Linked DNA regions of Homo sapiens: all the other regions are linked to region 1. The links come from fine-mapping of genetic effects on gene expression. A gene starts in region 1. Each other region holds a variant in brackets. All regions are shown on one strand. Distances are from middle to middle.

Region 1 (4,000 bases):
TATCCACTACTCTTGACTAGGGGGAGGATAAGGGGTTTGCAGGTTGAACAACTTGGCTAACCTGGGTCACTTCAACTGTTTTGCCAAAGAAGCATCCCCTGAAATCCTGGTGGAGAGCATCTTTTCAGAGGCTGGAAGGCTCTAGTCAGCACGCTGTGGGGCCATGGTCCTGCACACAGCACACCACTTCCCACAGCCATGAAACAAGAGCACTGGACTCACACTGACAGGGCCAGGACCTGGCTCAGACACTTGTTGTGTGACCTTGGGCACCTACCATACCTGAGCCTCTTTCCCCATCTCTAAAATGGGGAGGGCAAAACTCTCAGCGTTTTTGGAATAACCATGAAATTGGCTGCAAAAGTGCCACAAGACAGGACCTGTTGCCCAGTAGGCACTTAATAAGTCCGTCTTCTCTCTGCATGAAGAAAGTGAGTTCTTACGGTATTAGAGTCTCCAGGGCATTGCACAGGACTACCCTGGAGACCGGAGGCCCACTTGTTGGGTCGACTGCCACTGGGGAGGGGGAGCAGGACAGAGTAAGTGCAGGTGTCAGGGAACCTGGCACAAACACTGGAGGGCCAATTCGCCTCTGGCTTTTCTCCCGTGGGACCAGCCCACAAGGGGCCTGGCTGGTGACTTCATCCTTCACCAAAATCATTGTAGACTGTAGTTAACAGGCGACAATCACAGCAAGAGAGCCGGCACACTGCTGTAGGCCTGGCGGGGCCCTACAGGCTTCCAAATAAAAGCTCTTTCCGCTTTAAGAACCCAGGCCTCAGAATAAACAATGTGGAAGGAGGCACACTACTCTGGTTTCCACATCCCCTCATCCCCATCCAGTAAAGGCCGTTCCCAGCTCTGCCAGTGAGGCTGGCGGTGAATACAATTTACCCCACCTGCCCCGTCTGGCCCGGCAGCGGCTTAGACGCTGTGGGCAAGATCCCACCTCTCCCCGGGGCCAGCCAGGCACCTACAGGGTGGGTGCCGCGGACACCCTGCGGGGGTGCTCCTGGGCCTGGAGCGAGAGCGGGCTACTGGGGATGCGGGAGACGCGATGCAGAGCGGACAGTGCCGCGGCCCCTCGGACCACTGCCACGACCCCATCCCGACTGGGCTCCAGCCCGCGGCCAGCCAGGCCACTGACATTTGGCCCAACTTAACTTCCTGTTACTAAAGAGGGAGGGGACAGGGGAGGGGGAAAAGGGCGCCCAGTGAAGAGCTGGAACGGGGCGTGCAAGGCTCGGAGCCCCAATCCTGGGAAGTTTGGGGATGGTCTTCTGCCAGGTGACAGGCAGCACTGCAGGCGCGTCACTCCCACCCCGTTTTGGCGCTTGCGATTTTCTAGGCTTGGAACTGCAGGGTTTGGGTGTTGCGGAGCGGAGTAAGAGGTAGTTCGGCGTGCCGGTGGGAGGCTTTTATTGCGTTCTAATTGGTTCAGAGGCCGGCCAGGGCCGCCCCGGGCTTCGTCGCAGCGCCACCTGCTCACTGTGCGCCCCGCCGGGTGGGTTTGAGGCGGGGGATGCTGCGGCCGCACCTGACCCTCCCGGGCGTTGGACACGGCGCAGAGTCCAGCCGAGGCTGGCACGGTCCCCACCCGCGCCCGCCCGCCCTCCCCACCCTGAGGCCAGCGCCGCCCCCGCCTTACCGAAAGTCGCGCGGGCTGCCCGGCCCCGGGTCAGGCCTGCCTCGGCCCTGGCCGCGGGCGCAGCGATCGGGCCCCGCGGGCCACTGACAGAGCTGGGAGCGAGCGAGGCGGCCCGGCGCAGGCTTAGCCAGCCGAGCGCCTGCGGTTCTGCGCCGCGCGGTGGACCGGGCTGGGGAACGCCCCCGACAGCGGCGCGGCCAATGACAGGACAGCACGGAGCCCGCCCCGCCCCCGTGGGGCCGGCTGTCACCGCCGCTGCCGCCGGCGCACGTGGGCTGTAGCCCGGCCCAGAACGCAGGGAGTGGCCGGGCGCTCCCACCCTGACCCGCACAGGGCGGAGACCAGGGGAGGGCTGCTGGGAGTGGGGCGTGGTGGCGCTGCGAGATGAAACCCCCGGTGTTGGTAAGCGGGTATCAAGGGAGCGGCGAGGGCCTGGGCCTCACGCTTCTTGGTCTAGGCGGCTGGAAAGCAAGACACGGCATCCCCTTTTGGACATGGGGGAGCAGCATGGCACTTCTAGTACCGACTGTGTACGTCCTGTGGACCTCCCTCTTTGCTCGGCTCCTTGACCACCCTGAGCTTCCGCAAACCTCCTTGCTAGCTAATAGGATCTTCCCCTCACCTGGCCTTGCTTGGCTAAAGCTAGTGGGAAGGGGGCGGTGGTGCAGACTACCTGTGTTACCTTGGTCAGATCACCTAAACACCCTCTACCTTTGGCTGTCATATCCCTATCTTAATCTCTGCTCTGCCCACCTTCCCGGGTTACCCTTACCCCCCACAGCTCCAGAGAGCAACATTCACAGACAACACAGTGTGAATGGAGTGGGGCCTAGTGAGCAATCAGAAGCACTCTGTAGACTATAACTACTGTAAAACACCTTGTGTTTAAACGGCTCTTGTAGCAGTTATCATGAAATGGGGATCTCCATGGGCAGGAACCATGTCTGACTCACCTCTGGAACCCAGGGCCCATCACAGGGCTTGGCCCGGTGTAAGCATCAATAAGTGTTCTTGGAACTGAGCTACCTAGGCAGAGGAAAACAGGCAGGCTTGAGCAGTGAGAAACAGTATTGTGGCTCCAGGCTGCTGGAATTTCCCCAGCACAAGACCACCTCCAGGAGACACCATGTTCCCTTGCCAGACAAGTGCAAACAGAACAGTTTGCCTCCCCAAACCTGCAGATTATTATTATTTTTTCTCTACTCTACTTCTTGCCATGTGATCCTACTCTCAGCCCTTTGGTGTTTACCAGGTATTGTCCTACCTGGCAGCTCTCTTAGCTCTCTCTTCAGAATTCAATCAACTTCCTGTAGATGAACTTTCCAGCAAAAGCTGTTCCTACCCAGTTTGCAAGGCCCAGTCAGCTTGTACTCTCAGAGGGCCAGCACTCCACTCTGATGGAAATCTGCCTGTGATGCCAGCCTGGGGAGTGCCCTTCACACGTGATCTCATCTAAGCCTGGCTTGACAGGTATGTATTGTATCATCATCCCATTTCACAGATGTGGAAACTGAGACCAGTGAGGTAAAGCAACTGGTCAACATCACATGGTTAGTAAGTATCAGAGTCCGGATTTGAGCCAGATCTGGTTCCAGAATCTACATGCCTAAACACTATGTGCTGGGGCCTCTACAGCACTGCCCATGCCTCTAGGGTACTTGACAGGTCAAGTCTAACCCTGAAAGAGCTGCTCTAGGCCTGACCCACTCCCAGTCCATCCAAACAGTCTGTCAAGCTCAGGCCAGGGCACTGTAAGGGAGAGGAGACTCCACTGGCCTGGCCCTACCTTATTTAGAAGAGTGATACAGGAAACCCAAGGCAGTGAGGAGCTTCAGGAAGCAGTGTTACATCTGTCCCCACCTTAACTACACTGGACATAAAGCCTCTTGCTATTGGCCTGGACCTGAGACACCCATGTGGTGGATAGAGATGGAGACAGAGTCATTCATTCATTTAACAAACCCTACTCCGAACCAAATGTGGTTCCTGCACTCATGTAACTTATAATGCAACAGATGAATAATCAGAAGTACACAATGCTGTCCAGACATGGTGGCTCAGGCCTGTAATCCCAGCACTTGGGAGGCTGAGGTGGGCAGATCACCTGAGGTCAGGAGTTCAAGACCAGCCTGGCCAATATGGTGAAACCCCGTTTCTACTAAAAAACACAAAAAATCATCTGGGCATCATGGCACATGCCTATAATCCCAGCTACTCAGGGGGCTGAGGCAGGAGAATTGCTCGTACAGCGAGACTCCATCTCAAAAAAAAAAAAAAAAGGAAGAAGAGGAAGAAGAAGAAGAAGACCACAGTGCTTTGGGAGCTGTATTCTTTATTACTCTTTTTTTTTTT
Region 2 (4,000 bases), 39 kb after region 1:
CTCCTGCCTCCCTCTTCCACTTCTAAGGACCTTTGTGATGATACTGGGCCTGCCCAGATTATCCAGGAAAACATCCCCATCTCAGGATTCTCAGCTTAATCCCATCTGCAAGGTCCTTGTGCATGTAAGGTGACATAGTCACAGATTCTGGGATGAGGACGTGGACGTCACTGGGGACACCATCATTCTGCCTACTGCAAGTTTTTAGGTGAAGCACCCCCTTGGGTGAGGTTATATATTTACAGCCGAAACTGCCACTCCTCAGCTACATGCATCTTCTCTCTTTCCTGGACACACAATTCCTTTTCTTGTGGTCAAGCACAACAACGATGCCACTGTTTATCAGAGAACAGAGTTCTGGCCAATGGGGTGTGGGTGTAAGAGATGGGCAGTGCTTGCAGGCTCACACAGACTCACACGACCACCTCAGATGAACGCTTCCCTTTGCCCATCCATAAGTTGAGTGAAGAGTACCCAGGGTAAGGTAGAACCACAGGATGGAAGAAGTCAGGGTCCCTGAATGACACTGGAACAGTCTCCCTGCTGACTCACTTTGTATTTTGATACGAAAGTAAGATATTAAGACATTGACATTTGAAGGTTGGTTGTTACAGAGGTTAGTCTACACTGGCATTATACAACTATAAAAGTGTACTTTAAAAGAATTTGCAGGCCGGGCACAGTGGCTCATGCCTGCAATCCCAGCACTTTGGGAGGCCAAGGCGGGTGGATCATGAGGTCAGGAGATTGAGACCATCCTGGCCAACATGGTGAAACCACATCTCTACTAAAAAAATACAAAAAATTAGCCGGATGTGGTGGCACATGCCTGTAGTCCCAGCTATTCAGGAGTCTGAGGCAGGAGAATCGCTTGAACCTGGGAGGTGGAGATTGCAGTGAGCCAAGATCGTGCCACTGTACTCCAGCCTGGCAACAGAGCAAGACTGTTTCTAAAAAAAAAAAAAAAAAAGAATTTGCATAAACATACTTCATAAAAGTTATATGGTACTAAATTTTGTAAGTAAATATAGCATTTGCTTACTTTCACAATAAGTTGGTCTATGACATAAACTCTATGTGAACAAGAAGTTTCCTTGACCAACAACAAAATGAAATCAGGGATTCTGCTACTCAGCTGTAGTCCGCCCTCTGCACCTGATTTATCTCTGTGTTTTGTATTGACTGCTTACACAGTATTGAAGGAGTTCTGATGAACATACATTAGTAACCGCACATGGTAACAAGCATTTTTTTAACTTGTAAGCTCCAGAAACTCTTCAATAAACAGATTGTTAGAAAAGCTCAATTCTGAGGTCAACACAGAAACTAGTTAACTGCGCAACAGGAGTTAATGTTTGAGAGAGCTTCCACTCAGATTTATTTACTCATTGTTTACTTTCAAAAGGATCAAAGATGATTTACCCAAAAACCTGCAGGAAAAATGAAACCAAACAAGGCAAGCAAGAACAACAAGATATGAGCCCAGTGGTCAAGCACCTGGAGTTAGGGATTATGTGGGCCAAGATGCAAGAGAGAGGGAGAGAAAGAGGTAGGGTCGGGGGTGCTTGGGGAGGGGTGGGCAGAAACATTCCCTGTGTTCTTGGAAATGTCATATATTCTCCAAAATGGTCCTTATAAGCAAATGACCAAAGGGCCTTACAACTAGATGATCATGTGTCTGGCTAGAGTTAAGAGCTGAGATTCCTACAGTTGTTCATCAGAGTCTGGGCCCCCCCCAGCGCTGGTACATACAGACGTGGAAAGAGAGGCTGGGGAGAGCCTGGGACCCCAGAGCAGTCACTTCAAGGCAGGGATCAGCATTGGTACAGGGACTGGGTGGAAGGCGAGTTCTGAGGAGCCCCTGTTCCATCCTGAGGAGCCCCTGTTCCATCCACTGCCAGAAACAGTAGAAGGTTCTGGAAGTCCTGCCAATGGCCAAGCAAGGCAAGTCTGAGAACTGGCCCCACTGTGGAGCCCAGGACTGCAGGAGAAACCACTTCTCCCAGACTGGCCTGGGCAGCTCACACCTGCCGAGTGTCTGCTGCACCACGAAGGAAGCTGGTGGGGAGGAAGGCCACTCCCATTAACCAAGCACCTATTTTGTGCCAAGCAGCACACTATGCCCATTGCACATATTTCACTTTGAACAGCAACACTGTGTGTGTGGTAGGTGCTTTTAACCCCTGATTTAGAGATGGAGAATTGAGCCTCAGCAAGATTAGAGAAGTCAGCCCCAAGAGCACATGGCCATTCATGGCGGAGCTGGGATTCGAGCCC[G/C]CACTGCCCGGAGCCAACGCCCATGTGCTCAGACAGCTGCCAGAGGCTCCAGCTGCTCCCTTCAGGCTGCACACGCCACGAGTGTCAGGTCACCCCCTCTTAACTTGGATCTGACAGAAATAGGCCAGAGTGGGGAGGCACTGTGGCCCTCATGTCACAATTAAAGCTATAAATGTTCTGAAGGTGGGGGGTTTAGAACAACCAACCTTGGCTGGGGGTGAGTGAGATGTCTGAGGGAGCCGCAGAGCCAGGGTACACAGCGTGCACACCAGCGTGGCAGGGGACAATGTGTTCCCATCTTCGGAGGCCCTTTGGTCCTCATATTTCGTAGACTCAATGACACAGACCTTCTGGAACATCAGGAGACTCCTCAGAACACTCTGAACCTCTTATTGTTTACACAACAGCAGCTGCTATGAGATTCCCAGAGCTAATCCTTGTGCAATTACCCATGTTAGAAGTGAGGAGACTGAGGCACAAAGAGATTTGCACCTAAACTGGGATCCAAAAACTGGTGAGGGCTGATAAGTGGGTGGGCTATGGTCCCCAAGAATGTCCATTATAGGTCTGATGCTCTGATGGTGGGTTTCAATTAGTAGCAGCAGTAAACATCTCCAAATAAAATGTTGACTTTACCTCTGTGTTGTGGGCCCTGCCATTTGTGAACCGGATGGGCAGTAGTGGATGGTGATGCTCAGAGTTCTAGATGCCAGGGGTTTGATGGTGGTAGAAGTGGCCATCAGAGCAGGCACCCCACATAATTGCCCAGCCACATCCATAGAATGGGGCTTCTCTCATCATTAAGACAACAGATACGTGTCTTCATAAGGCCCCCAAACAACCAGCCTTTTAAATTTTGTTACTTGTTTTGTGACAGTATATAATCCTAAGTCACCTTTCTAAGTGACACTGACACTTATCTGAATCCCAGCGGCCCAAGCAGGATTCCATGGATAACGAAACCCACTTTGTCCTTTTCTTTAATAAAGTTGTCACCCGAATCCCTGCCCTCTCAACTCTCCACTATGAAATATGTAAGCCGTGATTATTTTTCCAAATGATACTGAAGTGCGTAGACTTTCAATAAGAAATGACTCGGGGTATTTTATTCAGCCAGAAATTGATGTGGATGTTTCTACAAAACTCTCATTTGGGTACTTTCTTATTTAAAATTTTTTCATGAAAATTAAGCAGCATTTTTGCATAATTGAGTGTTCTTGGGCATTTAGTTTTTTATGGCTGAATGTTTTATTTGAAAGTCTACATAAATTCCTTTGTGAAGGGAGGTGGAGCAGCAAGAAGAGGGAAAGAGGAGAGAGGAACGCGGCGCAGGGCCTGGCTACATGGGCCCCAGAGCACGTGTCGGCTGGGCAAGGGAATGGGCAGATGAATGAATGGAACGATTGTCAAGCAGGGGACGTACGTAATCATTGCTCCTCCCTGTCACCTGCAAGATCATCCAGAAATCTCTGATAAACAAACACCTGCCAGTTCAGGGCTCAGGGCCCTCTTCAGAGATTGGAGGCTACCTGGGACCCGGGACAGAGCAGTGGCTGATGGATACCAGATGCGACACCTACCCTTCCCTGCTGGCCGCCTGCTAGTTTATCAAACCCCTCCACATGGTTTCCTCCTGGGAGGAACACCCCTCCCAGGAGGCGGAGCAGGGATCTTCCTGTTGTACACTTGGGTTCTGCACCTGGAGCCAAAAGGAGCACTGTGC
Region 3 (4,000 bases), 120 kb before region 1:
CCCCAAGTCCAAGTTTCCTCATCTAAAAACTGGCATGAAAATATGTTCCCAGCCTTCCTCCAAAGGTGACATGAGGAGCAAATGAGATGTATGTGAAAGTGTTTTGTATGCTGCAAAGGGCTGTATTGATTGTGGTTGCAGTACAGAACCAAGTGTTCAAGCCAGATCATTTTACTCATCTTTTGAGAAAACAAGCATCTTCATTTAATCATCATTTCTAAAGGAAAAGAACTATCATTTACTAAGCACCTTCCACCTGCCAGACATCGTGCTCAGACCTGCCACACGCATTTGATCACCTCATCTTTGCAGCAATACAATGGTGTACATGTTGTTACCCTCATTTTTCAGACAAGCAAAGGAGATTTCTGAGAGGCTAGAACATTTGCCAGACCCCCAGCAGACGTAAATCTGTGTTTGTCTGCTTGACTTCTAACTGCATTCCCAATCTGTAAATCAGCTCTGAATCCTGGACTGAGATTGCGCTGAGGAAAGGAGAGAGAGTAGCTTCAGCCATGACCTGCGCGCACCTGGAGGGGATACTCCAGGGCCCTGTGCTGGCCCAGCCTTGGAAAGCGGCACTCTTGACTCCCCTAAGCCTTCTTCAAACCTCTGCCATGAGAAGTCCTGGAAACCTAGTGGGGAGCTTTGGCTGCTGGGCGTGTGGTTCTGTGAGAGAAGTTGGGGAAGTGAGGTGAGAGGAAGTTCGTAAGTCCCACTAGAAGGTAAGCTGCCTACGCAGGGTCCTCGCTTGTTTCGTTCACTGCTCCATCCCCAGTACTGAGGAGAACTCCACATAAAATAGGCACTCAAGAAACAGTTGTTGAATGAGTAGATGGAAGGAAGAGGCACCTTCGCACGTAATGCCACCCGGCTCTTCGGAAAGTGTGCAGGTGGCTCAGGAAGAGGAGGGTTGGGGAGGGGGACCTGGACCACTCAGACCACACACTGACAAAAATGTCAGTCACATTTTGTGAATGCCACTCTGTCAGGGACCAGTGCTGGAGGAGGAGGAGGACCTGGTTGAGCAGGATCAAACCTGGGGCTACCCATCTGGCTTCTGGGATGAGCTCTCCAGGGACAAGTAACAACTTCTGTTTTATCCCCCAAGGAGTGGGCTCAGAATGGGACAAAAATTGGTGTTCTGCATATGTGTACAGTAATGACCGTAGTGGCCATAAGTACAGGTGTCACCATGTGTGGCAGGTCTAGGAGAGTACTGGTAGGTATTGTGAGTCTGAGGGTGTATGTCTGTGTGTGTGCCCATGCACACAGGCATGATAGACGCCCTGGTTATATGTCCAGGTGTCACCTACATGCATGATGACAAGAGCCCTGGAGCCCCCAGGAACTGTCCCATGCCATGAGGCTTTTAGATCCTCACCAGGACCACAGACAGATCTGCAGAAGCAGACCAAGGGCCTTTTAAGAGGAAAATATACTCCCCAAGCTCTCCTCTTTCCAGGCATGGGCTGCCCAGTTTTCAGAACTAATCAACCCACTGGGTTACCACTCATGGTGGGAATGGAAAAGTTACTCTCTTTAAAAGTAAATGAGATCCTTGATGGAGAAAAAGCCTTTCATTTTGCTTGAAGTTGATACATCTTGCTTGGATTGCATGTTATCAGGAAAATAAGATGGGGGGGG[A/GA]AAGAAGAATTTAACATCGTCAGTGAAAATCAGGGAGGGAGGTTCTTAAGCCTGACTCAGCAGAGAACCAGCAGATCCTCTTCAGATGAAGATGCCACATTGTAAATAAATGTGCACTCACAGCTCAATTCCCATATCAATATATTCCTCTGGAAGACAGAGAGGAAGTTAGGGAGGGGCAGGGAGGAAGGTCAAATACGGATGCACCTGTATGTACAGATATTGTCTGTGTTTGTGGGGAGGGCTATTGTATAGACTCGTGCAAGCATGCCTGCCCTGTATCTCCACTCCAGAAGGGCTGATGAGCAAGGTCATTGAGGGTTGCGTGTTTTGTTGTACTGATATCTTGGTGTAAATGTGAGGGAGCCTTTATGTACAGATGTGTAATTGTGTATGGATTTCAGAGTCTTACGTGCAGACATCCCCTGTGGCTGTGCAGGACCAGACCGAGGTGGACTCACTGTTCTTTGCTAATGGGAAATGTTGAGGTCAAAGAGCATTGCCATTCGGTTCCCCAAATCAAAAAAGCATTCAGATACAACAAGGTATCTGGTAGGATGGGAAGAAGGTACTTTCTACGTGGCCCTGATCACTGTGCTGGCATTGAGTGGTAGACAGAATGCAGAGGTATTTCAGTGATGGCCAAGGCACAGTGTGGTGACCCAGTAGCCTTACGAAACAACCTAACCCACCCACAGGAAGTGCTCCATCGCTCTGAGAGAACAAACAATGCCCATGCCAGGCACTTAACTCAATGGCCAAATATCTCTACCTATCCAAAGATGGGGTAGAGTGCAAGGATTAAATGAGGCTGTGGGAGAGGACAGATCTGTGGGCCTTGACTCCTCTCAAAATGGGCAGCCAAGGGACACACCCTGAAGAAGACTGAACAAGATTCAAAAGGGGCCAGAATTGGGCTGGGCAGAGCCCTCTACCACAAGCATTTTCTAGCAGAGCCAGAGGGAAGTGGAGTGAGGCCCTCAGCCCTTGGGAGGCCTGGCTAACCTTGCTGATTCCTGACTTTTAACCATCCCCAGCTCCCAAGCCAGTGCTGGCCAGGCTGTTTCAATTCTGTCACTCTGTAAATAGAGGTGTGGTGAGTGAAAGGTGGAAACATCCCTCTCCAGTTCCCTCTGAGGGCCAAGTGGCAGAAACGCGGTGAATGGAGAAAGGCAGTAAATGTCTGTCTCGGAGAGCTTCCAGAAACACTGACTGGCTTGCCTGGGGCCAAACAGCCCAAGACAGGGGTCCTTGGGCTGGAGGTAGAACAAGCTGACCGCTGGTACCCAGAAGACAGCCCCATTTACTCAGTGGGAACATGGCGGACAATGCAGCCCTCACACAGAGCCTCTAGGTTGGGCCGGCTCAGAGTGGGAGAGAGGCTGGGTGCAGCTCATCATTTTAACTGCTCTGTTGCCATCTTCCTTGCCCAGCTAAGGCCTTGCTAGCCCATTCCTTCCTAGAGATAGGGAGCCACAGAAGCATGAAGTATCCTGCTCCTGGGGTTGGCAAAACAGCCGCTGCAGCATCCCAGGGAGCAGGGAGTTCAGGCCTCAGTGGAAAAAGTGACCACTGCTCACACAGCCCAGGGAAAGGAGGCTGGGTGGCCCCATCCCACCCTGCTAGGTATGGCTGCCTTGGCCAAGCTTAAATAGACTCTTGGCCACCTAGAGAGACTCAGAAACTTGCAGAGGCTTCCAGCCCACTGTCCTGTTGGTGGAGGGCACCCTGCCATCCTGGAGAGGGCAGGCAAGCTCTGGGCAGGTACTTACAACTGCCCCTACCCCAAGCCACCCCTGCTCCCACCAGTGGCTTCACTCTGGTCCTATTCTCCTCCACCCATCTTCTCTCCTCTGCTCCCACTGACCACCCCAGGAACTCCCCACTCCAGTCCTAGAACTCTGACATTTGCCATCCGCCCCAACACATCCAAATCCCATAGCCTGTCCTCAGCCCCGACCCTGGCTGGCTTCCCTGTCGCCTGGCATGGTCTCCAGGGCCCATCCCGTAGAAGCGCTCTCCTCCGTGGGCTTCCCGACTCCCTCTCTGACTTTCCAACTGCCTGTTCCCCTTCCCATCTTCTTTCCTGGCTGCTCTGCCTCTGCCAGCGCCTCAAACTCCCTTGTTCCCCAAGGTTCGGACTCTTGGTTCTCAGTTTTCTCCCTATCTTCCCAGCATCTATCTTCCTAACTGGACTCCAAGGTCAAGGCTCACATTACTTCTGTATGTCCTATAACTGGATACACAACAAATGCCTTTCAATGAGTTGATTAATTAGTGTGAAGGAAGCATGGGGTAGGGGCAAAGTAATGAAGTACAACGGAGTAGCAGGTGACCTGGCCAAGGCACCTAG
Region 4 (4,000 bases), 28 kb before region 1:
TTATGTTTCACCCTGCCAATGGAGATGAAACTGGCAGTCAGTCCCAGTCCTCAAGTCCAGGAAGTTGCAAGAAAAGGTAGAATAAACACAGAAGAGTAGCCAGGACCCACCTGGCCCTGGGTCAAGCCTGGATTGAATGGATGAGCCAGGAGGGACCCAAGATTCCAAAGGGAAGAGAGAAGAACAGCACGTGTGTTCAACAGAAACAGAACAAAACAAAAATTCATTTGAGGGCAATAGGATTGAGCCAGCCAGAATTGCTCACACTCCCCTCCCTACACATTTCAGACAACATTGGAATTCACTGTTCATTGCCTGACCCTCCTCTGTGGACAAACTCTGTATTCTGTTTCTCCAGAGAGGGGACAGTTTCTCAGGCTGTGGCAGACTGGCCAATCAGCTCTTTGCCTGGGTCTTTCCCCAGATACTAAGAATGAGAATTCCTGGAGCAGCTTTCCCTGAGGTCCAGTCAACCCCTTGTCATCCTGCCATTCAGGACTCCCGTGGACTCCTCACCCCACGTGATCCCTCAGCGCCCACCAGGCCAGCTGCCAAATGCCCTGACATGCACGCCGGCTGCCCCTCCGCCGGAGCCTCCGCCCATGCCCCAGCATCTTGGATTGGGCCCTGATGCTCTCCCCTCACCCTCACCTTCATCCTCCCTCCTCCCACAACTAAACTGAGCCTCTTCAACGCCCTGCCAAGGCTCACATGTCCAGGAAAGCTCCCGGAGAGAAGGGAGGGTTTTATTCATCCCTATGTTCCCTCTGACTCATGGCTTTCTGTAAGTTCTTCACCCTCCTGTAAACACAGATATATGGTCCCAAAATGTTCTCTGATTGCTGAATACAGGAGCAGGGCAGAGGAGGAGGGAGGAGGGGTGCCAAAACGCCAGACAGGAAGTCCAGGGCCTGCGTTTCCATTCTCCATTGGACACCAGTGAGCCCTGTCACCTTGAGAAAGAATCTTCAGGCCAGGCCTCAGTCTCCCTGTTTGGCAATGAGGGGTTTACTCTAAACAACCTTTCTAATTATAAGGTTACAGAAACCAGGCTAGCCTGGGACACAGAAAACGTGAGTCCTGGGCACTTATTAGCCTACCACCACCTGTGGCAGGCTATCTGACTCCTCAGACCCCAGCCTCCATGTCTATAAAATAAACAAGGATAATGTGACCACCCCACCCAGGGCACAAAGGTTCCCATAGGACACTGTTTGTGATGAAGCTTTGTGGACCATAAAAGCCCTGATCAAACCTCAGGGATGAGACTCCTTGAGTCCACAAACAGCTGTTGGTCACCTGTGATGTGCCTTGTACTGTGCCTGCCGGGAATTGCTGCCTGGCTCAGACAGGAAGGCGGGAGTCTGGTTCCTTGCCCTTGAGGCTCCCACAGCCGGTAGGTGGGACAAGCAGGTGAACAAACCCTAACTCAGTGGTGTATCTGAGGCAAGAACACAGCGCTAGGGGAGTGCAGAGGAGGTGGTGCTGACTCAGAGGGAACAGCGCGCCCTGGGCACAGCAAGCTGCCCCAGGATGGTGGGAACATCCCACACTTTCCTAAGCCTAGGACCAGCCCCCAGGAGCTACTCCACGGTAAACAAGATCCACCACTGTGACTTACTCACTGGATTCTCAGGCATCACAGTGGTTAAAGTCTTCTCTTTCTGGGATGAGACACACACGGGTTGCCATGTTCCTTTAAAAACAAGAGCCCAACAATTAATGTCAGTGACATCATCGTAGCTTATGCCTCCTTTCTAGTCTCCTCCAAGAGGTCACGCATGCTTGTGCACTCTGCCTTGTGGGACACTTCACCCAGCAAGAGGAAATGGACAGAGAATCTCTCCCTGGCCTCCAACAAGTTTTGCA[CG/G]TGAAGAAAGGAATAGCAAGATGGCTAAACAAATTCTATTGTTGGCTGCAGTCAGGGCACCCTAAGGGCTTATCAGATCTCTACACAAAGACTTTGCTGAGGAGTAGGAGGGATCCGGAAAACAATGCTTTATTCGCTGCTTTAGTAAAAACAGAAAGTGTCAGAATTTTTAAGTGTGAGACACAATGAAAGTAAATCAAGCAGGTGTAAAACTGGATAACAAGTCCCCAGTGTGAAACGGGTCCCATTTTCTAACACTGAGTAAACTAGGGAGTTATGAAAGTGCACCAGCTGATCATGGCTGAGTTTCCTAAACTAATTTTTCTCTTGGCTTCCAGTGACGACCCACATTATTTCATGACATCCTATTGCTTCTGCAGAAAATGCCTCTACACCTGTTTGGAAAACGAAGCCCAGAGTTACAAAATATTTCTAATGATTTACTTCCACATTAAAAAATAAATCAAAATATTTAAGAGGTAACCTCAAAGGGACAAAAACTAACACAGGTGTGAAATTTGACATCTATAAGAGGCAATATTCATACTCCAGGGAGGTATACGCACACTTTGTTCAACAGAGTGGTGCCCCCCACACACACACTCACACACACACACACTCTCTCTCTCTAGCACACAAAGAGCACACATTGTTAGAGTGCTGGGAGATGGGACTCACTGTTCAGAATTCTCAGCCCGTTAATGGGAGACAGCCTATGAAGTGCTGTGTACTGTCATGGGTGGAGACTAGACCTGCTTGATCTCAGTGGCTCCTCACAGACAGCAAACAGAGGCTTACAGAACAGATGGCACTTGCCAAGCCCCTACAGCAAGGCAGGATTGGAGCCCAGGACTGGCTGCCCCTGTGCTCATGGTCTTTCCCACCAAGCTGAGGGAAAGGTGTACTGGACATCAACTCTGATTTAGTCCTGGTGGGCCCACACACCGGGCGAGCCTGGCGAGCTCCAAGGGCGGCCACCTGGGCAGAAGCGGCAGCCCTGCCCGCCCGTCATCATCATTACCAAGCCCACACCCCTCGGGGCTTGTGCCAGCTGACAAACAGGCTGGCCTGCCTGGGCCACATTCTATCAGCCTGTGCTGCAGGCTCGGTGCTGCTGCTTCCAGCCAGAAGTCAAAGCGGCTAGAGGCCTTGACTTGTCTGCCCCCTGCTTCTCAAGGGAAGCTTCTGGGATCTGTGGGTGGGGAGCTGGACATCCTGGTACAGAATTCCATCATTGGTCCAACCAGAGTTTCAGAAGCCAGGGACCCCGCCATGCTCTCTAGATCTCAGGAACAGAAGTCCCTACCCACCCTAGGGCATTACGGAGACCAGCAGCAGGGACACGGGGCTCTTTAAGGTTCAGCTTAGGCTGTCTTCATGGTGGGTTGGAGGCAGGTATGACTGGACCAGGCTACAAGGGCTGACCACTGGTCAGATGCTCACAGAGGCCTGGGCACACTGTGTCCAGCCACTCAAAGGACCAACTCGTACCCTTTGTCTGACCAACAAGCCAAATACACTTGAGCTCCCTGTAACACCAACAAATTAGAAGGTCCTAGAGCCCAATACCTTCTGGCCTTTGAGGGTCAGGGCCTCTGTTCCCTCATCCATAAAATGAGGAGCTTGATACAATTGGTGATTTCCTCACCTAGGACCCCATTCAGCTGCCCCCCTCCAGGTACCCTGACTTTTAGAGACACCGACAAAACTACTTAGTTGTTATAAGAGGGAGGGATTAACCTGTGTACAGGTATTGCCTTGGGTAGTTAACACTGCTACCTCAGCTAATCCTCCCAGCAACCCTGTAAGACAGGTAGTACGGTATCATTACAGAGGGGGAAACTGAGGCATGGCACAGCGAAGTGCTTCACCCAAAGTCTCGATTAGCAGAGACCACAGCAGCTCTGGGACTCCCGATGGAGCTGGCCTGAGTCCACGCCCATGCTCACTCCCTGACACTATATTTTCCTTTGTAATCAACCAGAATGAAGAAATGCTGTCTCTCCTTGGACTTGCCATCAGGCCAGTGCCAAGCAAAGAAGCACGAGGTCTCTGGTCCCTCATGGGCCTGATTTGGGTGATACAGGGAAGGTTTCCTGTGAGATTGAGTGGGACATGACAGGCCCAAGT
Region 5 (4,000 bases), 110 kb before region 1:
CATCAAATTTGGCATTGAGCTTCCTGGCATCCAAGGCAAAAGGGAAATGTGATATGCCCCAGAGCTCTCCTTATCAGAAAGAAGGAAGCGTAGAAATTCCTCAGGGGAGGCAATTTTTCCCTGGCATTAAATTCTAAAAGATCTGTCTCACGTAGGAATTTCAACAGGGCGCGTTGAGAGTTGTAATGAACAGTGCACTTGATAATGGTCTTGGAGCAAACAACGAGCACATTTCATAGGTCTGGTTCTCATGAGAACTTTCAGTACAATTAAGAGACAAAGGAGCCATCAGAAAGTGTGATTTTATAATAAATTCAGCTAAGCGAGTATGATCCAAATATGCCATGTTTAGTGGTCAAACAAGACCAGAAAAAGAAAATGGGAAACCTCTCACACTTTCCAAAATCAGTGACCCCTTTACTTGATGGGCCGAGGGCTCTCACAGCGTAGCTTTTTTTTTTTTTTTTTTTTTTTTTTTGAGATGGAGTTTCGCTCTTGTCTCCCAGGTTAGAGAGCAATGGTGTGATTTTGGCTCACTGCAACCTCCGCCTCCCAGGTTCAAGCAATTCTCCTGCCTCAGCCTCCCCAGTAGCTTGCTTTTGGTGCTAATTGTTATGCTTCTTTCATGGGGAGTGCAGAGCCCTGAGCTGCGAGGACTGGAATATCCATCCTGGAGGGACACTAGCAATGAAACACAGGATGTGAGGATTGAAGAGAGCTGGCAAGTTTAGTGTATCCCCAGAGTCCAAGCTGCTCACCGTGTGGCTAAAGAAACTAAAAGACCACCTTTCTCAAAGGTGACACAAAAAGTACAGACACCTGGAGTGGGAGGGGACCAGTGTGTAACATGAACACAGGCTTTGGGGCCAGTGAGAGCAACGGGTCAAAGTCCACCTCTGCTGTTTACTAACTAAATCTGGGCCAGTTATTTAACTTTTCAGAGTCTCCACTCTCTCATCTGTAAAAAGGGAATATCAAAACCTACTTCACAGAGCCACATGAGAAGATGGAATGAGTGTACACACGAAATCCCTAGCCCCATGTGGGAAGTGACCGATGAATGGGAATTCCTGTCCCCTGTAATTCATGCTGGCTCCAGATATGGCTTATGATGAAGTATATCCTGGACCCAGCCAAGGCACCCTCAATTACAAAGGTCTTGACAATCACAGAGTGCCGCATTTACAGCCAGAGTGACCACTGCCTCAATTTTCTGAGTAGCCATGATTTCAAATACCCTGTTCTGGAAACTCATATTTCCCCCATTCAAACCAAACCGCCCAAATTGCATCCAGCACTGGTCCAAGAGCTCTTTGTCAGGCCCCAGTGTCCAGGATGGAATTCCTGTTATTTGATTTCCTTTCTGATCCCTGTTTCCGCGGTCACATGATCACTTCTCTCTCCGAAGGCGTGGAGGTGAGATGGGGGAAGAGAGAAGGGAGAGGTCTCAAACACCCCCCCTTCAAAATATGACCCAAGCATCCCTAAGATGGAGTGGGTGACATTACACAGTGAAGACAGTGCCTGGCGTGGACGCCTCATGCAGGAGAGTGGGGACCTAGCAAAGGGAAGACACTAGGCTAGAGCTGGCCTAGGGCTGCTGTGGAGTCTCTTAGTGGCTGGAGGGTCCCAGATGAGTGGGGGGATGGAAGAAGGAGCAAAACCATAGGGAGCAGATGAGGACAAGGACAGGAGGACAGAATCCCAGCCCACACACGTATGGGCCAGCAGAGGCAGGGGCCCAGGGAGGCTCTGGGATGGGACATCCTCCCTGTGGGGAAGAGAAAGATGGGCACAGCTGAGAGCCCAGAGGCACGGCTGCTTGAAGAGAAACTTTACTCTTCCTTCGGTAGCCATGGAAAGAAGCCCAGAGATCAGCTGGAATCAATGGGGAAGCAGGAAAACCTCTTGTCCAGAGGTCAGTCATTCATTCAACAAACATTTACTTGGCACCTTCTGTGTGGCTATAGGAAGATATGGATCCATGTAGGGAGAGGAAAACAGAAAACTTGCCATTCCTCCAGGGAGCAAGAGAACAATGTAAATTTAAGCGGCTCAGGGAAGATGGGTTGGGAACTTGGCTGGACACCTGGACGCTCAGGCTATAGCTCTTGTTCCAATCAGGTGTCCAGCCTGTGGCCTCCAATTTCTTTCCCATCTTGTACCTTGAGGCTCCTCAGCACCAGCTCAGGAGCTGCTCCCAGGGGCCTCTGAAGGAGAAAGAAAGGCCTTGGTGAAGACAAGCATGGGCCTGGAGGGGCTTTGACAACCGCCAGGGAAGCGAGTTGCCATGAGCAAACACCTGGGATGACCTGAGGGTGACCTTAGCATCCCAGGAGGCCACGGTGCTCTGCAAAACACAAAACCCATCAAGCTTTGCCTGCCTGCCTAACCTCTCCTCTGCAAAGCTGCCCGCTACCCCTACACCCCTGCACCCCC[C/A]AGTTTCAGACTAAGGCGGCAACTTCAGGAGGCAACTTCTGTGAGGCAGAGGGAAGAAGGGGACGCCACCACTCCCAGACTGACAGTCAGCAGTGGGACACTGCTGAAGCCCATCGCCCACCCATCTGCTGGCGTGCTCAGCCCACTTCACCAAGCCCGCATTCACAGCCTCCGTCTACAACTCAGGCTCTCAGCAAAGACCTGAGCTGAAGTGGAGAAGGCCCACGGGGTGGCTGGGTTACTAATGCCACCCAGACGGCTGCCAGCACACGCAGGAAAGAAGATAGCTGCATTCTTCTCTGACAAGCAGCAATGAATGGCCACCGTGCTGCCTGGGCTCCAGGCTGACACCCAGACAGCAGGCTGAACTTGGGCAGTGTGATCCTTATCTTGAGGTTGCAGCAGCAGCAGTGACAGTGGCAGCAACTACAGGGGCTCTGGAAGGGTTGTACACCTGTCCGAAGAAGCTTCCAGTCAGGGGCCACTACTCCATGTTTCTTCCTTCCAACCCTGCTCCGTGCTTAAGCATGAAGTCGCAAGGCCACGAAGCAGAGGCCAGGAAGCCAGCAGGACAAAAAAGCCAGTGTGCAAACAAGGCTGAGAAGTTACAGAGGGAATCTACAAACCCACCCTCTGCCGGGCACTGTGCCAGGTGCTCTATATATATCTTCTGTTTGCTCCTTCCAAGAACCCTTTCAGGCAGAAACTATCATTCCTATTTTGTAGATAAGAAGACTGAGGTTCAGGAAGGATACACAGTTTGCCCACAGTCTGGAGGAGGTATGTGGCAGAGTCAAGATGCAGATCGAGTCTTTTTGACTGCATGAATAATGAAATTCCCCCACACTGTGACAAGGCTCCACAGCATGAAATTCACAAGTCAAAGGATGCCTATGTCTCATTAGGACAAGGAGCCCCCATCTGCCTCCAAATGACATGTGACCTCCCAGAGAAGAGGCAAGGCTGGATGAGACTTGGGAAGGAAAAGACTCAGTTGATCCACATTAACACCTGGTAAAGGTCTCACAGCAGCACACGTCCCTCTGCAGAAAATTCTCTGTGCATATTGGCGTGGGCTCCTTTATCCAATACTCATGTAACACCAAGAAAAAGAAGGGTGTAAGCTGGTGGCACCTTCCCCCCTCCTCCCCTCGCTCAGTTTCTGGCAGGACGACATCTGCCTTCACACCTGCTGATGTCACCAGCCCAGGTCGCGAAGTCGGGAAATCGCAGCCAAGAGGTACGTACGTTAATGATGACACCTTTGTCGAGCAGGCTCTGCTTCTTGGCTGTCATTACAAAATAGTGGGTGCAGTCCTTGTAGTAAACAATGTTCTCAAGATCTATGCCTGAAAAGAGAAGCATTCACAAGCTCAGTGTTACTTCCTCGGCACCAACTGTGTGCCAGGAACTGTACTTTGCCTCACTATTGGTCTTGTTATTTATCTGCAGAATATTCATGTTAGACCAGTTTTTAAGGCACACAAGGCTGGCAAAGATAAAACAGAGTGCCAGAATCTACCCAAGTCAAAGCAGCTAGCTTCTATAGTTCTATAGCGGC
Region 6 (4,000 bases), 20 kb after region 1:
GACCCTATGACAACCCAACACTGGTGTCTCTGAGGGGACTTCATGGGCCTGCACGGAGCTCTGAGCCTACCCTGTTTCACAGGCACAAGTGCAGGCACATCAGATGCACACTCTCCTCACCATTTTAAAGATTGCTTCCCCAGGGAGAAACAACTGATTTCAGGCAAACCAATGAGCCGAAAAGGCTGAATGGAGAAATATTTTGCTGGGGGAACTGGTGTTGACTTTTCATTCCAGCCACCAGGCTACTCTGAGTTTTTCAATGTGCAGAAGGCCTTCACAGCTGGTGCCTGAATGCCTGGCGGTAGAAGCTATCTATGTCTCCTTCCACCTCTTTTTGGAAACAAATAATTACCATGTATTACAACAAAGATCACAACAGAGGTCTGTTTAGGGATCTCTGCCTTGCTCCCATCTGTACCTTTTGTCCCAGCACCCAGTAGACACTTACCATATCCTGATGCAGATTAGAGCTCAGCAATGTTTGATGAGTGTCACGTGTCAAGCCCTGGGTTAAAGGATACTTTGTCCTACTTTGTCTGCACCACGGTGGTGAGTAAAATCTCCATGTTGCAGATGAGAAACAAAGGCTCAGGGAAATAAAATGACTCCTCCAATCAGGGCTACTTAGCTAGTCAATGACAGGCTTGTGAGCCAAGATCTACCCACCTGTGATGGTGGAATCTAAGTTCAGTGCCACCTGCTCATTGCTGCCTGCTAAGGAAGGGAGGAGAAAAGGGAGGAAGGAAGGAAAGGAAGAGGAGACAGAGGGGCAGGGACAGATCATAGAAGGAAGAGAGGGAAAGGAGGAAGTTGAGAAAGAGGGGAAGGGAGAGAGGAGGGCGTGAGGGAAACTGGTGGTGGTGGAGGCTCCAAACCTGCCTTCCTCTTCTCTCTCCCGGAATCTGTGTCCTGGGGGAGGTTGTATGAATCTGGAAGCCCATTCCAGACTGATCTTGTATTTCCCTTGCAGTAAGAAGAGGAGGAAGAGGAGGAAGCTTAGGAATCCTCTCTGAAGGGGACATGGTTCTTGGAGGCCTGATTTGTATTGGGGAGAATCCTGAAACCAATCACTGAGGGAGCACTACCCTTTATGATGGGGATGGAAAAGCCACAGCAACCCTATGGCCTCTAGTTTTGGAGAGGGACTCAGCTAAAGACCAAAGGAAGCACCAGAAAGAAGAACTGAAGAGTTTAATTTGGTTAAACATAAATAAAAATAAAAACATCTCTAGAATATAGAAACTATCTCTAGAAGTCCGGGTGTTGTGGCTCACACCTGTAATCCCAGCATTTTGGGAGGCTAAGGCAGGTGGATGACCTGAGCTCAGGAATTTGAGACCAGCCTGGGCAATATGGCAAAACTTCGTCTCTGCCAAAAATACAAAAAATTAGCCGGGTGTGGTGGTATGCACCTGTTGTCACAGCTACTCGAGAGGCTGAAGTGGGAGAACTGCTTGAGCCTGGGAGGCAGAGGTTGTAGTGAGCCAAGATTGCACCACTGCACTCCAACCTGGGTGAAAAAAATAAAAGAAAAACTATCTCTAGGGGTGGAGCTCTGGGGAATGTTTTCTCTGTTCAAATGTTCTACCAAGCAGATGTATTACAGTGGATGTGATTGCCTTTAATTTGCTTGATTTGCTGGACATCGTTCAAAGGTCATCCCCAGGTATCAGTGGATGGATAGGAAGGAGAGTGTGTGCACTGAGGGTGTGGCTGTGGGCCCTGCAGGGGAGGCACCACAGGGAGGGGCTGGCACTCCTATGGGCTCAGACGCTCAGGTGAGTTGCCCATTACATAAGGTGCATTGCTAGGGCATTAGCTCAGCCAGGAAGGAACCACTCTGGACTTGTGACTTCACTTTCCCCCCTCCCTCTCTCCTGTTCCCACCCCCCACCCTGGCTCCTTCTTTTTTCTTTTTTTTTTTAGACGGAGTCTTACTCTGTTGCCTAGGCCGGAGTGCAGTGGCACGATCTCTGCTCACTGCAACCTCTGCCTCCACGGGGTCTCCTTCTGATAACTACTGAAGGAATTCTATGAGGCTATCTCTCCCCCAAGCTCTCTGGGGGA[A/G]TGGGTTTAATTAAAAACCAGTCCAGTTTGCCCTCAGTAGGAAACAGGGCAGACAGGATGTTGGTGCAAAGCAAGCCAAAAACCTAGTCAGTATGGAAGGCATCTGCCTTCTTCCTGTCGTGACCCTCTGGGCTCAGCTCTGAGACCTGCCGGGACAGGAGTAGCGGGGGCCTAGGGCCCTCAGGGGGGTTAACATACTGGCTGCTGACCTGGCAGGGGCTCTCAGGCAGGTGGGCAGGGCTCTGACAGGAGGAGTCTCTGGCTTTTGCCAAAGATACTTGTTTTCAGGTGGGTAACAGCATCTGGCTTCTGAAGGAACTTCCTCTTTGAAGCAGGAAGTGGTTTTGGATTCAGGAATAGGGCGTGGTCTAAAAGGAAAAATGATAGGGGAAGTTGGCAAGACCATAGAATCCCAGCTGAATGGGGTTAAGGGGACTTCTTGCTCACTGGAAAACCTGGGGCAGAAGCTCAGTTACCCAGATTGGGCTGGGGAAAGGCTGGAGCTGAGAACAGAGGTGGAGGCCCAAGGCAGGGAGCCTTCTCAGGAACCTTGGGTCATAAACGCAGATCTTTTTCTTTTTAATTATTTTAAACATTTTTTAGTTTTACTTTAAGTTCCAGGATACATGTGCAGAATGTGCAGGTTTGCTACATAGGTAAACATGTGCCGTGGTGGTTTGCTACACCTATCAACCCATCACCTAGGTATTAAGCCCAGCATGCATTAGCTATTTGACCTGATGCTCTCCTTCCCCCTGCCCTGCCACAGGCCCCAGTGTGTGTTGTTCCCCTCCCTGTGTCCATGTGTTCCCATTGTTTGGCTTCCACTTATGAGTAAGAACATGCGATGATCACAGATCTTAACCCTTTCTCTCCCACTGCCCAGATGGGGTTCCCACTACCAGGCCAGGTCTAATTTCAGCAGCTCCTGGGCCTGGGTGAAGCTAAATAAGGCAGTTGAATATCTCTAGCTCCTGTGGGTAGGCCTGGCTGGGGAGAGCAGAAATTGATACCTTTAGTCTCTCTGTGTGAGTAATAAGGTGAGAATCTCAATTTGAACCTGTGAATAATCTAATTTTTTCCTCCACCGCACCTAGTACTGGCAAAGCACTCGGCTTGCATTGCCTGGATCCACTCTCTAATGAAATTAGACAATTATATTTCCTCATATCCATACTGAAGAATCCTTAGAAAAATGTAAAAGAGGAAACCAAGACGCAGCGAGGTGAAGGGTACAAGCTCATTCATACCAGGGCTTTCCCCTCTTCTCGTGGTCCTTGAGGCAGTGATCACTGGTCAGTCACTGCATTCTTTCCTGCTGACCCCAGAGCTGGCGACAAAGCTCAGAAGGGCCCTGCAGGCCTTTCCCCCAGCAGCTCAGTGTTTGCCATTCCCTGTGTGATGAAGTGGGTATGCAGGGAGGCTGGACAGAAAGCAGTGCTGCAAGGAAGATGGAGACCTGGAAAATAAAAATGTCTGTCTGTGTTACTCATTGCTTCAATAATGCTATGCAACTGTGGCAGATTGTATTTCCCAAAGATGGCCGCAACAATATCTCCCATCCTATCTTCTCTTTTGAAATGTGACCTTGCCATTTCCCTATCAAGATGTGACATCTATGTTTCCAAGGGTCGATGCTGTGATTGTTTTGACCAATAGAATAGAAAGAAAGTGATGCCGTGCCAGTGCTGCCACAACTCTTACCTGGCCTAGCAGCATCCTCTTCCTGCCTCGTGGAACCCAGCACCCCGGTGTGAAAAGCCCTTGCCCATGCAGAGGTCATGTGCAGTCAACAGCCCAGTTGAGTCCAGCATGAGAGCTGGCATCCAGTGCCAGCCACCTGGGTGAGCCATCCCAGGCACCCACTCAAGCTGAACCTTTCGGATACCTGCAGCCCTAGCCGACATCTGACTAATCATCTGAAAGCCCC
Region 7 (4,000 bases), 97 kb before region 1:
CCAACTCTTCCCCAATGTACCCTCTCCCATTCCCATCCCCCCATTCCCACACCAAGAAGAAGAGTCTTCACCTTCCAGGGTGTTCCTGCGGCCATCGGCACCAATGATGACGTCAAACTCAAACTCCGACAGAGAATGGTCTGTAGGGAGAAATTCTGCCCGCCAGCCAATTTCTACCAGGACAGAGAAATGAGATGAGTTGGCAGAGAGAGGTGGGAAGAGAATGATTATACCCCCCGTGTGGTGGCTATGAGAAATGGACAGTGCAGCCAGGTCTGTGTATCACAGAGAGAGCCTCCAGGGGAAAGGCTAGAGCAGTCCAGATTCACTCTCTAATCTGGTGTCCTCTGACCTGAGTGTCAGTTCAATCCAGGATGAAGTAAACCAGCAACACCAACTCCATGCCTGGTTTTGTTGGCCTCCGCTAGGAGTCTATCCTCAATGCTCCATAAACTACTCTCATTTGCATCTTATCATTCTCAACAAAGTCCACCATCTTCTCTTCACATTCTCCCACATTCTTCAGTGCCTCTCATTGCTAAACAGACCCAAAAGGATATGTAGGGTGTAAGGAAACCACTTTTAATTTCTATTGTATGCTCAAAATGTTCTGTTGTACACTACACTGTCTTTTATTTAAAAAAAAAAATCAGGTGAAGCCTGGCTAATTAAGATTTAATGTCCACTAGAGGTCTGGAAAAGGTTAAGAGTACACAGTCTCTGAATGCCAAATAGTGAATGCTGTCCTGCTCCAAAAGCTAACTAAAGCCTCCCCTAAATTCTCAAATAATCTGGGCAGAGGACAGGAGAAATCAGAAATGTACCCTAAGCAGGAAACCACAAGGTCTCTGACACTAAGCTGGTCCCAAACTCAAAGCCCTTCCCAGGCGGTAGATACTTTTAATAATAAGTAAGATGCAGAGGCATCCTGAATAAACTCTCTGACCATGGTGTGTGTAAGGGATAAGAATTTAAACAAACATGCTAAAAGGAAAAAAGAGAAACATTATGATATGCCTATACGGGCAAATATCATAGTTTATAAATGATACCTCAACATGGTTAAGAGTATTATATACCAAATAACATCTTGAACCTTATTTCACAGTTGCTCTAGAAGCTTCACTTTACTGGATTTTAAAATGTGCCATGGGTACAAGTACAACCACATCTATGTGTTAAACACACACACAGCTTGAAGAACACGTGAATGAACCTTACCAAACAACCAAATCTATGTCTTCTGTCCTATTTATTGATTAGATTTCCTTTGCCAAAGTAGCAACCCCTTGGGACAGGGTAACCAAATTACAGGTTTAATGGCTTAATCATAAATCCCCTTGGAGCCAAACAGCAAACCTAAAGTCATAGCAATGGTAAAAAAAAAACAGTAAAATACCCTTCAGTGGCATTATGCCAACCAGCTCCCAGTAAGAATAACTCCTACAGAAACACCCTTTGGAAGCAGCAAGTGGAATTTCTATTTTGTAGTATCTGCTTTCTAGGCAGAAAAAGAAAATTATACTGTACTTTGATTTTCTTGATCTTCAGGAGGCTCTAGAACCTTCACGAACTCCACATTCACATGGATTTCAACTCCCAGCATCAGGGCCACCTTGAATAGGATGAGCTGTAGTTGGCGAATACCTGTCAGGCAGGAAGGAGAGAGGAACTGTCACAGCAATACCTGAACACCACCTATATGCAGAATGCTACATAATCACTGCCGCTCAGTGACCTTTGAGCACAGCAGTATACCAACAATGATCATTACTGAGCGGGATTATGCACCAAGAGCTCTGTGTTTTCTCATCTAACTCTTACAGTGGCCCTTTGGAATCGTTATTATTCTCATTCTGTAGATGAGAAATTGAGGCTTAACAAAGTTAAATGACTTGCTCAAGGCGACACAGAGCAAAGCTAGAACATGGACCCACATCTGTCTGATTTCTAGACCCTGTTCTAGCTGCTAGATGATGCTGTAACAAGAGAAGCTCTGTCTTTCCAGCCTCCTTCCCCAGCTGGGCTCTGGGTTTGATGAAATGAAGAGTAAAGGGCCTCAGTGAAGACCGTGATCAGTGACTCATTACATGGGGCCTA[C/T]GCCTCAGCTCTTAGACATCCAGTGGTGAGGAGTGGGTAGGAAATTTTCCCCACAAAGCTGGGTCATGGTTCCCCATCTCTTACCCACACTTCAAAACTCCCCTAGTGAGTGGAATCTCATTTCTGTTTTGTCTCCTGCCATTCAGCACAAATGCGTATGCCTCCAAATACTTTTCTGTAGAGTGAGAAGTTTTAAACTTTCTGTGGGCCCTTCTGTATTTGGTGGGTTTGACTTACTTAGTATTTATTGAGCATCTATACTATGTCAGGTGCCATGCTAGGCACAGGAGATACAGAACACACCCTCTAATGGAGGGAACAGAGGTAAATAGAATGGGGCAAGACATGGTGGTTGGGGGAGGGTGATGGTGGTAGAACAGGGCCTTAGTGGGGGTCCTGGAAGCCAAGAGAGGAGGGACCAAGAATATCAAATCCCACAGAGAGAGGAAGGGCTGTGAAGGTGACAAGAGCCCAATAAACTTGGGGGTTTGGGAGCTTTTGGAGACACTGCTGAAAATCTCTTTAGCACACAGGTGGGGAAGACAGCAGACTGCGACGTTAGAAGGTTTGAATGGAAAGCATGGACCAAGTCTACGCCCTTCTTTCTAGAATAAATACCTTATGGCAAGGAAAAGTGGCAGGGCAGCAACAGGGCTGGAGGGCTGGCATGAGGGGAGGAGCAGGAAGACTCAGTGATGGGGCAGGTAGAAAGGAAGGAAGGAAGCCAGAGGGATTGGAATTGGAAAGGAGGCATAAGCTGTGATCTGGCATGAGACACGAGGAAGGAATGGGTGCTGGGGCAGCAGGGGAGAAAAGCGGGCCTAGAACAGGAACACAGGAGGGAGGCCATCTGCTAGGAATGAGGTCACCGTGCTGGAGGTTTGGAATGGCCACAGTGGGAACTGGAGGAGGAAGTTAACACAGACATGGAGAACTGCTGAGCAGTGCTGAGTATGATGGTGCAGCTGAGGCTAGAGATGTGGCTGGGGTGATCCAAAGCCAATCAGCTTAAAGAGCCCAATCCACCTCCTGCCATGAACCACCCTGCCAGGGGAGACCTGGCCTTTCCTTATAGTCCTGAGGTTCCTACTCAGTACGGTTCCAGCACACAGTAGGTGCTCAATAAATTCTCCTTGCCTCCTTTCTCACAAGTACTGGAGCTACCCTTGACAATGATCATTCTGCCTGTCTCAATGTTATTTCTAGAGTCCCACCGGCATTACGGCACGCTGCAGGATTTCCAAGGACTAGGGGTTCAATGAAAGCCCCATCAATGAGGGCAGAGAAGGGCTCCTGGCCAGGAAGCCAGCCCAACCAGCCCAGGGCCCCACAAGGCATCCTGGTACCCAGTTCTGCCCCCCAAGAGAACTTGATGAGAAAGTGGTGCTCAATACAGTGGTTCTAAATTGGTAACCGACATACATTCTTCCATAGGCGGGAGAGCACATCTTGAAAGCTGACACTGCAGCTTTCTGAGTAAATCCAAATTTCCACTGGACTCCTGGAATTTTCTCATCTCAAAGTGTGAATAAACTCTGGGGGCACAGCTGGTAAATTCTCCTGTGTCTGAATAAATTATACCCTATGTGACTGATAATTCTCTCCAGTTGTTCCCGCCCAAGCCTCATTCCTTTTTCCCATCAATTCTTGTCCTCATAAGAACATGGCTCTCAGGGCCCTCCTCCCACCTACCCCTACAGAGAAAGCAGCTCTGGATTCTGAAGTCTGGGGACGATGGCTGCTTCTTGCTCACTGTACAGCATGGGATGCAATGTGTTTTCCTGGGCACTTACTATGTGCTAGGCATAGTGCAAAGCACATTACAAACTTGACCTCATTTAATCTTCTCAGCAATTCTAGGAGACAGAAATTAATCACACTTTACAGGAGATAAAACTGA

Alleles and levels. Alleles are on the strand shown, and positions count from the first base shown. SD is a standard deviation of normalised expression in the study named. Not every link is listed here.
For the expression in aorta of the gene that starts at base 1,785 in region 1, GA is the low allele of the variant in region 3 and A is the other (small effect, 0.22 SD a copy in GTEx).

Evidence for each region. PIP is the estimated chance that this variant, and not a neighbour inherited with it, causes the effect. A credible set is the group of variants that fine-mapping cannot tell apart.
Region 2: its variant is the best candidate, but not a certain one, in a credible set for the expression of MICAL2 in skeletal muscle (GTEx, PIP 0.88).
Region 3: its variant is the best candidate, but not a certain one, in a credible set for the expression of MICAL2 in aorta (GTEx, PIP 0.86).
Region 4: its variant is the best candidate, but not a certain one, in a credible set for the expression of MICAL2 in whole blood (INTERVAL, PIP 0.62).
Region 5: its variant is the best candidate, but not a certain one, in a credible set for the expression of MICAL2 in whole blood (TOPMed, PIP 0.69).
Region 6: its variant is the best candidate, but not a certain one, in a credible set for the expression of MICAL2 in fibroblasts (GTEx, PIP 0.88).
Region 7: its variant is the best candidate, but not a certain one, in a credible set for the expression of MICAL2 in fibroblasts (GTEx, PIP 0.86).

Annotation. Positions count from the first base shown.
Region 1 is chr11:12,108,375-12,112,374 of GRCh38, reverse strand. It overlaps MICAL2 (microtubule associated monooxygenase, calponin and LIM domain containing 2), which reads right to left and starts at 1,785. Exons shown (of 28, transcript NM_001282663.2): 1 at 1,649-1,785. RefSeq lists an enhancer at 1,176-1,879 and a silencer at 1,422-2,091.
Region 2 is chr11:12,069,141-12,073,140 of GRCh38, reverse strand. No RefSeq gene overlaps it. Among named protein-coding and RNA genes, the nearest start is that of LINC02989, 16 kb to the left of the region's middle. The variant G/C (reference allele first, on the strand shown) is at 2,278.
Region 3 is chr11:12,228,362-12,232,361 of GRCh38, reverse strand. All of the region lies in intron 15 of MICAL2 (microtubule associated monooxygenase, calponin and LIM domain containing 2), which reads right to left. Among named protein-coding and RNA genes, the nearest start is that of MIR6124, 67 kb to the right of the region's middle. The variant A/GA (reference allele first, on the strand shown) is at 1,648.
Region 4 is chr11:12,136,086-12,140,085 of GRCh38, reverse strand. It overlaps MICAL2 (microtubule associated monooxygenase, calponin and LIM domain containing 2), which reads right to left. Exons shown (of 28, transcript NM_001282663.2): 2 at 1,626-1,696. Among named protein-coding and RNA genes, the nearest start is that of MIR6124, 26 kb to the left of the region's middle. RefSeq lists enhancers at 87-628, 629-1,172, 2,903-3,403. The variant CG/G (reference allele first, on the strand shown) is at 1,870.
Region 5 is chr11:12,216,007-12,220,006 of GRCh38, reverse strand. MICAL2 (microtubule associated monooxygenase, calponin and LIM domain containing 2) reads right to left here. Exons shown (of 28, transcript NM_001282663.2): 8 at 3,688-3,788. All of the region lies in intron 2 of LOC124902634 (a long non-coding RNA gene), which reads left to right. Among named protein-coding and RNA genes, the nearest start is that of MIR6124, 54 kb to the right of the region's middle. RefSeq lists enhancers at 2,135-2,635, 2,636-3,136. The variant C/A (reference allele first, on the strand shown) is at 2,440.
Region 6 is chr11:12,088,651-12,092,650 of GRCh38, reverse strand. It overlaps LINC02989 (long intergenic non-protein coding RNA 2989), which reads right to left. Exons shown (of 2, transcript NR_186297.1): 2 at 3,210-3,529. Among named protein-coding and RNA genes, the nearest start is that of LINC02989, 3.8 kb to the right of the region's middle. RefSeq lists an enhancer at 1-242 and a silencer at 135-429. The variant A/G (reference allele first, on the strand shown) is at 2,071.
Region 7 is chr11:12,205,670-12,209,669 of GRCh38, reverse strand. It overlaps MICAL2 (microtubule associated monooxygenase, calponin and LIM domain containing 2), which reads right to left. Exons shown (of 28, transcript NM_001282663.2): 5 at 1,531-1,647; 6 at 72-173. Among named protein-coding and RNA genes, the nearest start is that of MIR6124, 44 kb to the right of the region's middle. The variant C/T (reference allele first, on the strand shown) is at 2,101.